Regions from separate parts of the Homo sapiens genome. Here region 1 is linked to region 2. A link means that fine-mapping ties the variant in region 2 to the expression of a gene that starts in the linked region. Tissue or cell type: whole blood. Region 2 holds a variant in brackets; the other region holds the start of a gene. All regions are shown on one strand. Distances are between the middles of the regions.

Region 1 (2,624 bases), 400 kb before region 2:
GGTCAGGAGTTTGAGACCAGTCTGGCCAACATGGTGAAACCCTGTCTCTACTAAAAATACAAAAATTAGCCAGGCGTGGTGGTGGGCACCTGTAATCCCAACTACTCTGGAGGCTGAGGCAGGAGAACCAGTTGAACCTGGAAGGCGGAGGTTGCAGTGAGCTGAGATCGTGCCACTGCACTCTGGCCTGGGCAACAGATCAAGACTCTGTCTCAAAAAACAAAAAAATAACAAAAAAGAGAAAGGTCTTGGCACATAGGACTAAATGTTCCATACAAGCTTCAATTTCCTAAATGTAGTTCCTCCCTGGCCTTCCTATGGGATTAGGGGACCCAGTGGACTTGTGTGTCTGAGCAGGCATTTGTCCAGCCTCCTTGGGGACAGATGGGAGGACTCTATTGGCCCCTGTCATGGTGTCACCCTACTGGAGAGGATAAGACTCTAACTGACACTACAGGCAGCTGGGGAGAGAGAGAGCTTTAGTTTCCAGGCCTCCCTCTTGGGAGGGCCACTCTCTGATAGCTGGGCTAGTCAGGGAAGGCTTCCTGGAGGAGTGGGCCTCGGACCTGAGAGAGCGCTGGGCTGCCTGGCCATGGCAGGGGAGCAGAAAGAGGACTCCTGGCTAAGGCTGAGGGCCTGGCTGGGGACACAGGCGGGGACAGTAAAGGGCTGGGGCCCAGGGCGGGTCCAAGGGAACTGTCTTCCCAGGGATCAGAGGGGTAGATCCAGGCTCAAAGACCAGGGACCAGGTGCCCAAGACCCTGCCCCGTTAGTCCTCACTGGAGCTGGTTGGCCCTGGGACTGCAAGGGTGGCCGTGCTGTCCCTCCCGTATTCCCCCCACGGGATGCCCTCCACCAGCTACTCACATAGTGCTGGCTGGGTACGAAGCGCTTCTCAAAGCCCAGCAGGGCGATGTGACGGATGAAGGTGTCCCCCATGACTGGGTGGCCTCCAGTGCTCCCTGGCACTTCCAGGCTGCGCCTTAAATGCACTGGAAAGAGGAAGTCGCTTTTGTCGCGGTCGGGACAGGGGGCAGGGAGGGTACAGAAAGGGCTTTGCTTCTTCTTTCAGTTTCTGGGGACTCTTCAGGCTTGCAGGGTGTAAACATGGGCAGACTCATGTTCACACACACCTGCAGGGACAAGGAAAAGGGTTTACACTTGTCCTTCCCGTCGCCTGCACGGGCCCCACGGGTTTTGGGGGTGAATCAAGCTGCTCCTGCCTCAGGGCCTTTGCATTTGCTGCGTCCCCTTGACCATCTTTCCCCCCTTGACCATATTCCTGGTCTTGACCATGTTCCCCCCATTCACCATCTTCCCTCCATAACTCTCCTCCATTTCTCTGCTCAAATGTCACCTCTTCCGAGAAGCCTTCCTTGATAACTTCACATTGCATAGCAAACCTCATACCTTTCTCAGCCTCTTCCTGCCTCCTTTTTCTGCAGAGCACTTATCACTGATGCATCGCAAATTGCATTTAATTTTTCTTTATTATTATTGCTATTGTTATTTGAGACAGGGTCTTGCTTTGTTATCCAGGCTTAAGTGCAGTGGTGGGATCACAGTTCACTGCAGCCTCCAACTCCTGGGCTCCAGCGATCCTCCTGCCTCAGCCTCTGGAGTAGCTGGGACTACGGGTGTGTGCCACCATGCCCGGTTAAATTTTTTTTAATTTTTTTGTACAGACAGGGTCCTGCTATGTTGCCCAGGATGGTCTCAAACTACTGGCCTCTAGTGATCCTCCTGCCTCTGCCTCCCACTTTTTTTTTTTTGAGATGGAGTCTCGCTCTTGTTTCCCAGGCTGGAGTGCAATGGCGCGATCTCGGCTCACCGCAACCTCTGCCTCCTGGGTTCAAGCAATTCTCTTGCGTTAGTCTCCTGAGTAGCTGGGATTACAGGCATGTGCCACCACACCTGGTTAATTTTTTTTTTTTTTAATTAGAGACTGGGTTTCTCCATGTTGGCCAGGCTGGTCTTGAACTCCTGACCTCAGGTAATTCACTCGCCTCGGCCTCCCAAAGTGCTGGGATTCAGGCATGAGCCACCGTGCCTGGCCTGACTTAATTTTTTTAGTCTCCCCTTACCACAATGTGTGTCCCAGGAAAGCTAGGGCATGACCGGGTTATCAGGGGCTCTAGCCCCAGCCCCTCCATCTAGTGCCTGGCACACAGAGGCCATAAATATTTGGATCGTGACTGCAACATTCACTGAGTGAATGAATGAGTGAGTGAATGAATGAATGAGTCAATGAATGAGTGAATGAATGAATGAATGAGTGAATGAACGCGGGCATGGGAGTGTGCATGCAAGCGTTAGATGCTCATCCTTGGGTGTGTGTGGATGAGGGCCAGTGACAGCTGGGACGAAAATGGCACAGACTTTGAGTGAGACTTGAGTTCCAATCCTCAAGTAAGCAAATGGTTCATTGAATTGTTCCTTAGGGCTGACTCAGTTTTCTCCAGAGTGATATTAAGACTGTCAGCTTTGCCAGGAAGGGGATTTGGGACAAAGAGGTGAGGAGGGGGCAGCATGCCCAGGGACAGGCTGAGGCCTCTCTCTCCCACTCCCCCTAGAGCCTGGGAGGCCCAGAGCTTTTGGAGCTCATTCAAGGTCATGAGTTCATG
Region 2 (2,500 bases):
AGTGCAGTGGCACGATCTCAGCTCACTGCAACCTCCACCTCCCAGGTTCAAGCGATTCTCCTGCCTCAGCCTCCCAAGTAGCTGGGATCACAGGCATGAGCCACCACGCCCAGCTAATTTTTATATTTTTAGTAGAGATGGGGTTTCACCATGTTGGCCAGGCTGGTCTCGAACTCCTGACCTCAGGCGATCCACCCTCCTTAGCCTCCCAAAGTGCTGGGATTACAGGCGTGAGCCACCGCACCCGGCCACATAAGCACATTTCTAAATCTTGACTTCCCTCCTCCAAGGGGATGCAAAAATAAAAAATAAAAATAAAAAAGATGATAGCAGCTAAAGAAAGAGAGTCAATAATGAAACAGAGAAGCCAGAGGGGGCATCAAAGGGCAAGGTGGCTGGCGGGCCAGGCGGGTGCGGTGGCGCGGTTACCCTGTTGTCCGCTAATTCTCGGAGCAGCCGCTCGGCCTGCGCCTTCTCCAGTAGCAGGCTCTGTTCCAGCTCCCCAATGCGCGCGTGCTCCAGCTGCGTCTGGGTCTGGTCCACCCAGGGTGGACACGGTGGGGGGGTGGGGGCGGGGACGCAGGGAGGGGGGCACAGGGAAGAAGAAGCCGGAGAGAGAGAGAAAGAGAGAGAGAGAGAGAGGAGGCGTCATCTTCCGTGAACAAGGCGAGGAGAGTAGATTCATGAGCCAGAATTGCTCAGCGAAAGAGAGGAAGTCTGGGGAGGCGAGGGGTGTGGGGCCTCATGCCCACCCCTTGCTGTGTCCCGGCTGGGTCAGTGTAGGGCGGTGGGGGGTGGGGGCCTGCAAGCCATCCTCCCTCGCTGGCCCCTGCTTGGGGTAGCAATGGGCACCTCGCTTTTCTGTCCCCCCCAACCCCCAACCAGCAGCCCTTGACCTTGAAGGTCCTCATCAAGGATCTGCTCCTGGGGAGGGGCCCATCCTGTTCCCGTTCCCCTGCAGGCTGTCACTGGTTGTAGGCAAAGCATCCTCCACACAGGAGACCCACAGGATGAGGAATAAATAAAGGACCCCGGGATTCCCGCTCGACTCCCCCCCCCCCCCAAGGCCTGTGCTAAAAGTGCAAGAACCCATAACACG[C/A]AAGATGTTTCCAAAATATACCCGACCCCTCACGATCCTCTTGGCCCCAGCCTCCTTGGTGGAGGCCGGGCTGTGCCTCCCACTCCCGGGCCCCATTGCTGCCCACCCCACCGGACCCCACAGAGGACGCCTGGTCTCCACAAATCACAAGGGCACTTTTGTCCCAGCTCGACAATATCTGCTTCATCTGCTGACAAAGGCCAGCATTCTCAGGGTGTCAAGACTGGCTTTTGCATTTCACAGAACAGATCTTGGAAGGGAAGCTGGGAGGGTGAGGACATTGGGAGCAGTTTGGAGACCCAAGTTCATCTTAGGGAGAAGCCAGAGGGTCCTCTTTATACTCCAGGAGAGAAGGGGTTAAAGCAGCTGCAGGGCAGTTCTGAAGGGGCGGGGCTTAGCAAAACAGCCTCTAGGTGTGAAACCTGTAATAAAACCCCGGAAGCTTGTCTATTGGTGAAGGTGTAAACGGACATCACCTGATTAGAAATACTCCTGCAATTCATTAAGAGACATTGAGATGATTATGTCCTTTGGCCTATTTTATTTCTTGAATTTTCCTTAAGGAACAACAAAAAAAGTTCTCTCTCTCCCCTCCTCTCTCCTTCTCCTCCCTCTCCCTCTTTGTCCTTCCCTTTCTCTCTCCCCTCTCCTTCCCACTTTCTCTCTCTTCTTTCTCCCCCCCGTCTCTCTCCCTCCTTTCTTTTTCCCTCTCTCCCTCCCTCTCTCTCTCCATTCCCCTCCCTGTTTCCCTCCCTCCCTCCTTCTCTCCTTCTCTTTTCCCCTCTCTCCCTTCCTGTCTCCCCTCTTTGTGTCCCTCCCTCTCTCTTTCTCTCCTCTCCCTCCCTCCCCCGCCTCCCTCCTGGCAGTGTGTTCCAGTGCCAACAAGAAGTCAGCATGTCTCTTCCAGAAAATCACAAGCTCCATCCCAGCCACCCCTATCCCCGTCGGTGGGCACAACAGCCCTGTCTGGAACCCTCATAGATGGTGCATGATCCTACACACTGAACTGGTAGCCCGCACAGGCAAGAAAAAGCCTCCAGCTTCGCAATTTCAAGGGCAACTTCATTCGGTCCCACTCCAAAGGACTCCTCCCCTCAACCTTTTTTTTTTTTTTTTTTTTTTTGAGGCATAGTTTCCCTCTTTCACCCAGGCTGGAGCGCAGTGGCGCGATCTCGGCTCACTGCAACCTCCACCTCCCAGGTTCAAGCAATTCTCCAGCCTCAGCCTCCCGAGTAACTGGGATTACAGGTGCCTACCATCATGCCCAGCTAACTTTTGTATTTTTGAGTAGAGACGGGGTTTCACCATGTTTGCTGGTCTTGAACCTCTGACCTCAGGTGATCTGCCCACCTCAGCCTCCCAAAGTGCTGGGATTACATGTGTGAGCCACCACGCCTGGCC

Evidence for each region. PIP is the estimated chance that this variant, and not a neighbour inherited with it, causes the effect.
Region 1: NCF1 starts here. The variant in region 2 is fine-mapped to the expression of NCF1 in whole blood (TOPMed, PIP 0.96).

Annotation. Positions count from the first base shown.
Region 1 is chr7:74,772,347-74,774,970 of GRCh38, reverse strand. NCF1 (neutrophil cytosolic factor 1) reads right to left here and starts at 960. Exons shown (of 11, transcript NM_000265.7): 1 at 868-960. The coding sequence starts at 939. RefSeq lists an enhancer at 2,134-2,624.
Region 2 is chr7:74,370,966-74,373,465 of GRCh38, reverse strand. It overlaps CLIP2 (CAP-Gly domain containing linker protein 2), which reads right to left. Exons shown (of 17, transcript NM_003388.5): 9 at 430-534. Among named protein-coding and RNA genes, the nearest start is that of GTF2IRD1, 82 kb to the left of the region's middle. RefSeq lists an enhancer at 315-1,313. The variant C/A (reference allele first, on the strand shown) is at 1,100.